Regions from separate parts of the Homo sapiens genome. Here region 2 is linked to region 1. A link means that fine-mapping ties the variant in region 1 to the plasma level of a protein whose gene starts in the linked region. Region 1 holds a variant in brackets. A gene starts in the other region. All regions are shown on their forward strands. Region 1 holds the start of CLPS (colipase). Region 2 holds the start of SEMA3G (semaphorin 3G).

Evidence for each region. PIP is the chance, under the fine-mapping model, that this variant and not a neighbour inherited with it causes the effect. The UK Biobank Pharma Proteomics Project read protein levels with antibody pairs (Olink). The fine-mapping took linkage between variants from a reference panel, not from the people measured, so its PIPs are less certain.
Region 2: it holds the start of SEMA3G, and the variant in region 1 is fine-mapped to the plasma level of the SEMA3G protein (UK Biobank, PIP above 0.99).

Annotation. Positions count from the first base shown.
Region 1 is chr6:35,789,930-35,798,444 of GRCh38, forward strand. It overlaps CLPS (colipase), which reads right to left and starts at 7,394. Exons shown (of 3, transcript NM_001832.4): 1 at 7,276-7,394; 2 at 5,802-5,924; 3 at 5,053-5,348. The coding sequence starts at 7,359. The coding sequence ends at 5,217. It also overlaps a transcript of CLPSL1 not described here. The variant C/A (reference allele first, on the strand shown) is at 3,978.
Region 2 is chr3:52,442,433-52,445,499 of GRCh38, forward strand. It overlaps SEMA3G (semaphorin 3G), which reads right to left and starts at 2,671. Exons shown (of 16, transcript NM_020163.3): 1 at 2,481-2,671; 2 at 315-475; 3 at 127-189. The coding sequence starts at 2,595. RefSeq lists enhancers at 1,768-2,644, 2,645-3,067.

The sequences.
Region 1 (8,515 bases):
GGTTTTGTTTTGTTGGAGACAGGGTCTCACTCTGTCACCCAGGCTAGAGTGCAGTGGCTCCATCTCAGCTCACTGCAGCCTCATCCTTCTGGGCTCAAGTGATTTTCCCATCTCAGCCTCCTGAGTAACTGGGACCACAGGTGTGCGCTACCACACCTAACTAATTTTTAAGATTTTTGTAGAGATGGGGAGGGGGAGATCTCACCATGTTGCCCAGGCTGGTCTCAAACTCCTGGCCTCAAGCAATCCTGCCTCAGCCTCTCAAAATGCTGGGATTACAGGCATGAGCCACTGTGCCCGGCTGAAATTTCACTTTTTTCCAATATTGGATATTTTCATCCAGGAATATAAAATGCTTTAAAACAAAGTTGTTAATTTTTTTAATAAACGTTTTTAGCCTAATAAGGAAAAAAAAGAAACAAAAAAGAAAGGGAGTTGGGGAAGATACGTTGCTGACATGACTAAACTGGTTCCAAGTGTTGGGGGAGGAAAACTTTTCCTCTATCCTCTTAGGTTCAGTACTTGAAGGCCTGAGAATTAAACCGATAAAAGAGAAATGACCGATTTTTATTCAGAATGTAGGGAAGTTCATGGAAGAGTGTGACTCTAGAAGGAAGTTAGAATTTGCGGGTTATGTACCATCTCAATAGAAGAAGGGGAGGAGGAGAAAGGACACTTATAGAAAAGTAATTTTTAGGAAAGATGAATGGGCCCTTAGGAGAAAAGATGGGAGCTATTATAGTTTCGTGACCTGACTGTTTAGGTGTGGTGCCAACTATTCTCCCCTCCAGCAATAAGTCAATTTTCCCTGGTTTTGAGAAACTCCTGGGAGGGGGATTTATGACAATGGAGCTCTTTTGCAGGGCTCTGCATTTAGGCAGACAAAGGAGTTCAGAAAAGAGCCTATTCTCATCCAGCCTGGGCAGCATTGCGAAACCCTGTGTCTGAAAACAAACAACAACAGCAACATAGCCGGTGGTGGCACGCACGTGTAGTCCTAGCTACTTAGGAGGCTGAGGCAGGAGGATCACTTGAGCACCAGGAGGTTGAGGCTGCAGTGAGCCATGGTCGCACCACTGCATTCCAGCCTGGGTGACAGAGCAAGACTCTGTCTCAAAAAAAAAAAAAAGAAAGAAAGAAAAGAAAAAGGCCCATTTTCAAATGCCTTCTGCTCAGAATAATTTTTATGCTTCAGTGGCATTCTCTAGACCCCTTCACAAGCCATGGGGATTCCGCTGCCCTATGGGAAAAGTGGTCATTGGTAGAGGCTGCCGTTGTCAGAATCCAGAGAGATTTGTAGGGAATAAAGTACAGATGCTCCTTGACTTACGATGGGGCTACATCCTGATAAACACATTGTTTAAGTTGAAAATATCGTAAGTTGAAAATACGTTTAATAGGCCGGGCACGGGGGCTCACGCCTGTAATCCTAGCACTTTGGGAGGCTGAGGCAGGCGGATCACAAGGTCAGGAGTTCGAGACCAGCCTGACCAACATGGTGAAACCCCGTCTCTACTAAAAATACAAAAATTAGCTGGGCGTGGAGGGCACGCCTGTAATCCCAGCTACTCGGGAGGCTGAGGCAGGAGAATCACTTGAACCCGGGAGGCGGAGGTTGCAGCGAGCCGAGATCGTGCCATTGCATTCCGGCCTGGGTGACAGAGTTAGACTCTGTCTCCAAAAAAAAAAAAAGAAAAAGAAAAAGAAAATACATTTAATGGGCAGGTGTGGTGGCTTGTGCCTGTAATCCCAGCACTTTAGGAGGTTGAGGTGGGCGGATTGCTTGAGCCTAGGAGTTTAAGACCAGTGTGGGCATCATGGTGAAACCCCATCTCCACTAAAAATATAAAAATTAACTCCGGGCATGGAGGCTCACACCTATAATCCTAGCACTTTCGGAGGCCTAGGTGGGCAGATTGCCTGAGCTCAGGAGTTCGCAACCAGCCTGGGCAACATGGTGAAACCCCATCTCTACTAAAAATACAAATAAATAAATAAATAAATAAATTAGCTGGACGTGGTGGCATGTGCCTGTAGTCCCAGCTACTCGGGAGGCTGATTCAGGAGAATTGCTTGAACCTGGGAGGCAGAGGCTGCAGTGAGCCGAGATCGCACTATTGCACTCCACTCTGGGCAACAGAGACAGACTCCATCTTCCCCCCGCCACAAAAATAAATAAATAAATAAATAAATAAATTAGCCAGGCATGGTGGCACACGCCTATAGTTCTAGCACTTGGGGAACTGAGGTGGGAGGATCACTTGAGCCCAGGATGTCAAGGCTGTAGTGAGCCATGATCATGCCACTGCATTCCAGCCTGGGTCACAGAGTGAGACCCTGTCTCAAAAAAAAAAAAAAGTATTTAATACACCTAACCTACTGAATATCATAGCTTAGCTTAGCCTACCTTAAATGTGCTCAATCAGAATGCTTACATTAGCTGGGAAAAATAACACAAAGCCTATTTTAGAATAAAGTGTCGAATATATCTCATGTAATTTATTGATGTTCTACTGAATGCATATTGCTTTTGCACCATCATAAAGTTGAAAAATTGTCAGTCAAACCATTGTAAGTGGGGACCATCTGGTTCCTTGAGCTGTGGTTAGACTGTGCCTCTGCTGTGTAGGCGTGTGATGCTGAAAAGCAGCAGAAATTGAGAGTCTACAGGAGCACTGGCCGTTGGAAATAAAATGGAAGCTACATAATGGTTGGGGTCTTGGTCACTTGCTTCTGCAGAGCCCAAAGCCCAACTCCCTACTCACTTTTGAAGACCAGGGACATTTTCCTTATGCCCCCCACAGTCCAAAACACGGTGCCAGGCACACTGTGGTCATTCAGTGAACACATGAAGGGGACATGAATGCAGATCTCCAGGACCGAATGTGGCACCAAGAAGCGTGACTCAGCCCTGCTCAGGGCCTGAGACCCCTCCTGGGTTAAGGTATTGAAAGCTCCTCTTGTTGAGCACATAATTCATATGTGGCAGACACCATTACCTGGTTTCCTAATAGCCATTGCCCCCTTCCCTGCCAACTGAAACCCAATATTGTTTGGGCATCAATGAACCTGGCCCCAGGAGAAGGATCTTATTCCCTTTGCTTTCCCAGCGTCCCTTGCAGCTAGAAGTAGTCAGATAACCTAGTTCTAGCCACTGAGATATGAAGAGAAGTCGGCCTTGAGGATTTGAGGAAAGATAAGAAGAGGGTATGGTCCAGGTGCCATGGTTCATGCCTGTAATCCCAGCACTTTGGGAGGCCGAGGCAGGTGGATCACCTGAGGTAAGGAATTCAAGATCAGCCTGGCCAACATGGTGAAACCCTGTCTCTACTAAAAATGCAAAAAATCAGCCAGGCGTGGTGGCAGGCGCCTGTAGTCCCAGCTACTTGGGAGGCTGAAGCAGGAGAATCGCATGAACCCAGGAGGCAGAAGTTGCAGGGAGCCGAGATCGTGCCACTGCACTCTGGCTTGGGCAACAAGAGCAAAACTCTGTCTCAAAAAAAAAAAAAAAAAGGGTATGCAAGAAGAAACTCTCTGCTCCTTCTCCCGCCTTCCCAGCTGCCAGCTACTCCATGCTTCCTGCCTTCGAATACGGTGAGAACGTGAAGTCATGAGCTGCTGCTAAGGCATGTGGCAACCTTGAAGAGAAGGTCAAGAGCTACCAGCCACCAAAAGAATGCCAGCACTTCCTGTGTCTTTGCTTTGGATTCATGAGAAATATACGTTCCTATTTGCTTCAGCCATAATTACTTGGGTTTTTCTGCTACTCACAGTTGAATGCAATCCTAACTCATAAGCCTGTGGTTACAGGAGGATTCATTGATCACAGAACTGCAAGATCCTGGGGCTGGGACGACATCGAAGTTTCATTCAGTTCACTGTCCCTCACTCTCTGTGGGAATCTCCTCTCTAGCATCTCCACCGAGGGGTCAGTGAGCTTCCACCTGCGTACCTGGATGATGGGCACCTCAGTACTG[C/A]CTAAGGTAACTCATGTTTGATGGCTCCAGGGGATATACAATTTTTATATTAAGGCAAAATTAAATTCCTTGCAGTTTCCACCCATTTTTCTTAATGCGAATAATTGGGAAAGAAAAAGGAATCATAAGGCCGGGCACGGTGGCTCATACCTGTAATCCCAGCACTTTGGGAGGCTGAGGTGGTGGATCACCTGGGGTCAGGAGTTTGAGACCAGCCTGGCCAACACGATGAAACCCCGTCTCTACTAAAAACACAAAAATTAGCCGGGCGTGGTGGTAGGCGCCTGTAATCCCAGCTACTAGGGGAGGCTGGGGCAGGAGAATCGCTTGAACCTGGGAGGTGGAGGTTGCAGTGAGCCAAGAGATCACTCCGCTGCACTCCAGTCTGGGCAACAGAGAGAGACTCTGTTTCAGAAAAAAAAAAAAAAAGGAATCATAGAAGCAGGGCAGTGGAGTTAGATGGTAGAGTGCCAACATTTTCTGATTATGTGACATTGGGCAAGCTCCTCTCTGAAACTTGGTCTCTATCTATAAAGTGGAGATGAGAAATTCTCCCTCCTGGGATCCTTGTGAGCATTTGCTGGCAGAGAGTAAGCTCATAGCAATTGAGAGTGGTCTGACCCCTTAACACATGAGTTGTGTCAGCTAGCTGTCATATTTGAGAATTGTGTCCAGAAAAGAGGTGAGAGCCCAGGATTCTGATGCCTCTGATGCAGGGTGACGAACATGGGCCATTAAAACTCCTTACCCACAAGTGTGTGTGTGTGTGTGTGTGTGTGTGTGTGTGTATGTGCGCGCGCATGCACATGTGCCCGCTTGTCTCTTTGAGAACCGGAGGGACAAGGAGGGCATCCCAGGTAGGTGTGACTTCTCCCCAGAAATGGAGGGTTTCCTAGGCTGGCTGGGTCTCCTTCACAGCTTTGTCTTCAGTCTCCAATCTGTTTGGCCACAACTTCTTCAGCCCCAGACCCATCCCTTGTTCTTCTGACCTGCCTGAAGCCTGCCCTGGTGGACCAAAGGCCTGATGCAACTTCAGAGAAGATGCTGAGTCAGAAAGAATATGCAGGAGACTGGGAAAGGTTTGCAGGAGGCCTTTAATTGTGAAGAGCGCAATCAGAAAACAGATATGCTGGTCAAGGAGGTGGCCAGCCCGGGAGATGCGCTGGAGCAGGGGAGAGATGCCCCTGCGCCTAGTGGCCTACAGCATTCTGGGCTAGGTGTGGGAGTGGGTGGGCAGTCTCACTGCTTGGAGCGTCCAGCGTCATGGCAGATGCCAAAGTTGGTGTTGGTGATGGAGCCCACGATGGTCTTGTCTCCCTCACAGGTCAGGCCACGCTCACAGGGACACTTGTAGTAAATCCCATAGAGCGTCTGCAGAGACACAGCCAATGGAGTCAAGGCTATGGGGAGATACTTTGGACATCACTTGTCCCCTGCCTGACCTAGAGAACCAGTAGGCCAGCCTGTGTTTTCGGGGAGTGCCTCTCCCACCTGCCTCCCCAGGGGTGCCGTGGGCCCTGGAGACCCCAGCTCTGACCTCTGCTCTGGCTCATTTGCTCTTACTAGCTTGATCTCTCTGGGGAGCCTCTATTTACCCAGCCATGAAATGGGGATAACAAATCCCCACCCCCACCCATCTCACTGGTCACTCGGGAGGGTCAAGAGAGATGATGGGATGGGAAAGTGCTTTGACACCTGTCGACCTCCCTCTCGTCTCCTCAACATTCAGTGTCCAGGCTGACCCCCCTCCCTGATCCCACTCACAAGTGTTCAGGGCCCTACTCCCCATTCTCCCCCACCCACGCCAAGTCCTCAGGCACCCACCTTGACAGAGCACTCGCTGTTCTCGCTGGCCATGGATGTGCAGCGGGCCAGGCCCAGCGCACTTGAATGCTGGCAGCAATTGCTCTTACACTGGGCACTATTCATGCAGAGCTCACCGTTCTCCTGCCAGGAGCAGCCAGTCAGCCCAGGCCCCACTCCCTCAGGTCCCTTCTCCATTCAGACCTGTACCCACCACACACTACCACTAACAGTGTCTCCCCTGGTAGGGATGTGTGTGAAGGAGTCCATCCCCTGGGTCTGGTGGCCTCTGTGCCCCCCACCCACGTGAGAAGTGGGCATGCGGTGACAGAGAAGCAGACTTGCACAGAGGGTCAGGACCCCTGGGTTCTAGTACCGGCTGTGCTACCAACCTCCTGTGTGACTCTGGGCAAGTCACTGCCTCCCAAGCCTCAGTGTTCCCATTTGGAATGTGCACACAAGGCCCCTAGACAAGTTCTCCAAACCACTCTGGGTCCCACACCTCTTTAAGGAGGCGGTGAAGATTGCATCTCCCTGCAAGACTCCTTCCTCCCCCAACAGATCTGATCTATAATCTCCAAGGGTCCTGGACCTCCAAGTCCAGCCATGGCCCCAAGTTAAGAGAGTTCAGAACCTTTCAACCGCATGGACGTTCTGGAAGGGCTTTCCCAGCCAAGACCCATGGTGGAGAGGTGGTGTGGGGCAGTGGTGGGGCCCCAGCTGAACCACTTTCCAGCTATGTGACCTCAGGCAGGTTGCTCACCCTCTCTCTGTCTGAAGACAGGGCTGACTCTGAAAACACCTCCCTCAGTGGTTATTATGAGAACAGAATGAGTAAACATCTCCGAGGCATCTCCATAAGTCAGAAGCTGGAATGATTGGCGCAAAGCATTTTCTCAGGATGGAAGCCCAGGGCTCTGGATTTTTACAAAGCTCCCTCGTAGGGCCAGGTGAGGTGGCTCATGCCTGTAATCCCAGCACTTTGGGAGGCCGAGGTGGGCGGATCACGAGGTCAGGAGTTTGAGACTAGCCTGGGCAACATGGTGAAACCCTATTTCTACTAAAAATACAAAAAATAGCTGAGCGTTATGGCAGGCACCTGTAATCCCAGCTTCTTGGGAGGCTGAGGCAGGAGAATCATTTGAACCCGGGAAGCAGAGATTGCAGTGAGCCGAGATTGTGCCACTACACTCCAGCCTGGTGACAGAGCAAGACTCCGTTTCAAAAAGAAAAAAAAGAAAAAAAAGGTCCCTCATAGCCAGGTTGAGCTGCTGCTCTGAGCATGCTCCAGTTGGAGCTGGAGAGGGGCTGATCAGCCTTTCCTGTGGCCTCTGGGAAGAGGCATAGGACAGGACATGGAAGTAAACAGAGGGATGCAAGATGCCACTCCTCCCAGCCCCTGCCAGTCCAGGTGGAGACATCAGAGGTCAAGGTCCAAGCTTAGGAAGTCTTCATCTGGGGACTCAGGAGGCGCCTCCCCTGAAGACCCTCTTACCAGGTTGATAATGATCCCCCGGGGGCCAGGAGCTGCATAGGCCACAGAGAGGGCGACAAGCAGGAGGATCAGGATCTTCTCCATGGTGAGTGGGACAGCTGGTGTGGGTGGCGGGAGACAGAGCCAGCTGTGGTGATGGGGCTATAAAAGGGGCCCTGACCTCACGAGATCCACCTGCATCCCACAGGGCTGGCCGTGGGCAGAGGCACAGCTGTGGCCAATCTGCTGTGGGGCGGTTCCTGATAAGGAAACTGGGTGAGTACCTGGTGGCCTTTTTCGTGTGTGTGTGTGTGTGTGTGTGTGTGTGTGTGTGTGTGTTGGTGATAATTGTGTTGCATCGTGGTTAAGAGTATGGACTGTGTACAAGTTATTAGTGAGGCAAACTTACTATCTGTTCCAACTATTCTGCCTTTCATCTTATCTGTCAACTAAGGATAATTTAAAGAGTTGTGAGGGTTGAATTAATACACATTTATGTGTTACATATATATAAACATTATTATATACAATTATAAGAATATATTTATATTGTATATTCCCATATGCCACATAAGCAGTGGGTAAGGGTGGCTGCCCTTGTGTCTTGAGCTCCTGGGCAGTGCCTGGACGAATCCAAGGCAAGAGAGGCACCTATGGTGTGAGTGCCTGCTTACATTCTGTGTACTTGGGGCCTCTCTGCCTCACTATAGTCAGGCCTTGCCTTTGGCCCACCCAAGCCCAGGTGTCTAGCAGTGTCAGACTCCAGGGACGAGGATCCTAGCCTCCCACCCCTCAACCTTCCTTCAGTCTCCTCGGGGGATTCCAGGCCATGCCCAGATCCCTGGGGCTGACAGTTCTGCAACCCCCAGCAGGCCAGGGTGTGTGTGCTTTCACTTTGGCACCCTCCCCCTGCCCTCACACCAGGGGCTGCCTGCAGGCCTGACTCAAGGGCCCTTAGGAGGCCCTTCCTAAATGCCTCTCTCCCCTTTCCTTTCTACCTCACTTACTATCTGCAATTCCAGCATCAGATACTCACCCCTTTAGTTAAGGTTTCCACTCACGCTGCCCCCTACCCAAGGCCACGTGCGCGCGTGAGCAGTCGCTAGTCCTGGCTGAGAATGAAGAGGTCTCATGAGCCTCAGATGGAGCAGGGGCCTCAGGAAGCTGGGAAGGGCACAGCTGCCTGAGTTTGCTCAGGCATGGGAACAGAGCAGCTTTTCCTGAAGGACTAGTCATGGCAGCCAGAGGCCCCTGCCCTTCC
Region 2 (3,067 bases), not on the chromosome of region 1:
CTTCAAAAGCCCTCAAGATCTGCTCCAAATGCCCCTGGTAGAGGTACCTGGGGCGTGGTCACGGATTGTCCTGGGGGTCAGGGCAGGGTGTCAGGTCGGGGGACCATCCCTCCCGACAGCACTCACCAAAGGATCTCTTCCCTTTCGAACACACTCCTCCCTCTGTCCTGGCTGCGGTGGCCACAGGACCTGGAACACAGCCCCGCTGACCTCAGGTCCTCCCCTGATCTCACAGGCTCAGTTTCCCCATCTGGCCTCCCATCTGGAGGTGCCCAGTTCTCAAACAGACCCTCTTCCCTGCCAGTCCAGCTCACCTCCCGGGGATCTGGCCATGCCTGGTCCAGCCGCAGAGAGTAGAGGGCGTCCAGGCCACCCAGAAAGAGGCGGTCTCGGTACTCATCTAGGTACATGGCCTGGAGGTTCAGGGAGCCCTGGGGGCCCAGAAAGATGGCAGAGCGGTTGGCAGACAGGAGGTCTAGGAGGATGTATGGGGAGGCAGATCAGGGCCACAGCTCAGCCTAGTTCCCCAGCCAAGGAGTGGAGGTGGAGGCCCCGGCTGAGCATCCACCCCTGACACACTCACATCTGGAAAATGTTTCCATCCACATGGTGCTGGAAGGCTTTCGGACCATGGCTCCTGGGGACAGGTGGGACGGGAGGCTCAGAGCCTCCCACCTGGCCCAGCCTACCCTGGGGCCTACCTCCCACCCCTCCATTCCTTAGCCCTTCATCATGCAGCTAACATCTTCCCACTGTCCCATCTGTGCCCTACCCAGTCCCCAGGGAAGAAGGCCCCAACCAGCAGAAACTAGAGCAAAGTGCTGGAAGATCCTGGAGGAAGGGCGGGAGTCTTTGCAGGCCGCCTGGCTCAGCTGGAGGGTGGGCCAGCAGGCGAAACTGTTCCCAGCAGAGGGGACCCCTGGCAATGGCCTGGGTGCAGAAAAGGGAAGGTATGGCCGGGAAGGGCTCCCACCTCCAGTCCAGGGATGCGGCCAAAGACAATTTTCTCCCCACAGATGCTGGCTATCCCACCCCAGAGATGAGAGCGGGGAGCTGTCTGGGGACATCGGTCCCAGGAGTTGAGGATCCTGAGGTAGGTCCTCCGGGCTTGGCTAGGGAGGTGGAGGTAATGGGGGCAGTAGGATGTGGCAGGAAGAGGGTGCTGGCCACCTTTGGGAAGGCCCAGAGTGTCCTATGCCTTCCCTACGGAAGCACCTCTACCCAACACCCATTCCACCCCCAAAACTCATCAACGGTCTCTTCCGGGAAGCCCTCCATGGATGACAGTACCTTGGGGAACTTTCCCTATTTGGGGCTTTTTCTAGCAGTCTGACCTCCCCGCAAAACCACAGCTCCCGGAACAAGACCACATTCCCCTCAGCCTCTCCAGGGACGAGCGCCATCTCCCCCAGCAGACTGGGCTTCCCAGGGGAAGGTGGTCACCCCTCTGGTTTCCTCAGGAAGGATCTGCCAAGAGCCTGTCTCGGGCCTTCCCTGGGCCCATCCGTGGAGGCCTGAGCCGGCTCACATGTCTAGGGTAGAACACAGGAACCCCCAGGCTGGGATGTGCAAAAAGGGGAGGTGAAACTCCCCCTGGGCTGGGGCGCTTCTTGGGTGCAGGAGCACATGAACAAGCCCACTCTGGGAAGTGGGCTGCAAGGGGGGTCCTCCCCTTCTCTGTGGCCCCAGGACCAAGGGATAGCATGCTGCCTGCTCTCCCGTTGGCCACCCTGGGCAAAAAGTGCCAGTTGAGCCCAGACAGACCCTTCAGCCCCACCCTCTCTGTCACTCTCCCCTGCCTGGTCCCTTCCTCTGTCTCCTCCCCATCTTTATTGAGCTCTCTCAGGGTCTCCATCTGTCCCTTTCTCAGCACTCCCCCTCAGGTGCCTCCCACCGCCACCCTGGTCCTGTCTCCCAGGACCTGCCTCCCTCCCACTCCCCGAGAGCTGTGCAGGGAGAGGCTCCCTCCCCTACAGCTGACCAGGCACCCAAGAGCCCAAGCCACCCAAACAGGGCACACGCACACAAACAGGGCACACGCACCCAAACAGGGCACACGCACACAAACATGGCACACGCACACAAACTCGGCACACGCACCCAAACAGGGCACACGCACACAAACTCGGCACACGCACACAAACACTGCACACGCACCCAAACAGGGCACACGCACACAAACACGGCACATGCACCCAAACAGGGCACACGCACACAAACAGGGCACACGCACACAAACACGGCACACGCAAACTCGGCACACGCACACAAACTCGGCACACGCACACAAACACGGCACACGCAAACTCGGCACACGCACACAAACTCGGCACACGCACACAAACACTGCACATGCACACAAACACGGCACACGCACCCAAACAGGGCACATGCACACAAACACGGCACATGCACCCAAACAGAGCGCACACACACAAACAGGGCACATGCACACAAACAGGGCACGCAGGGGCTGGTACCTCGGTAGGAGAGCCGCAGGCGGGGCACACTGGGGCCGGGGCTGGGGCCAGAGCTACCCCCATGGAGCAGGAGGCCCCCTAGCAGCCAGCAAATGGCCCAGGCCGAGGGGGCCATGCTGGGGAACTGAGGGCACCGCTGCCGCCTGCCTGCAGAGCCGCCCTCTGGTCCCGCTGGCCGCCGGTTGTAGTTTGCTCTGCTGCCACCAGGCCACCACTTATAAGGCAGTGGCTCCACCCAGTCCTGGGCGGGAAGAGGGGCGGAGGAGAGAAGGAGGCTGGGGCCTTGCCGTCCACCTGCCGCTTCTCCTTCCACCTTGTTGGCCCAGTGCAGGCTTTTGTGCCACACTGGCCAGCTCCCCATTGGGAAGACCTTCCCAGCTAGGGCACAGGCCATGTGTACAGAGATGTCCACAAATGCAGGTCCCCAGGCTCCAGCAAAGTGACAAGTGGGGAGAGAGCCTGGAAGGGAGGTCAGGGATCAGAGGTTAAAGTTGATGGGCTGGGTAGGGGCCTAGCTGGGCTCTGCCTTGTTCTCTGCCCCTCCACTGCCCACAGCAGAGACCTTCCAAACTGGCCCTGCCCCAATT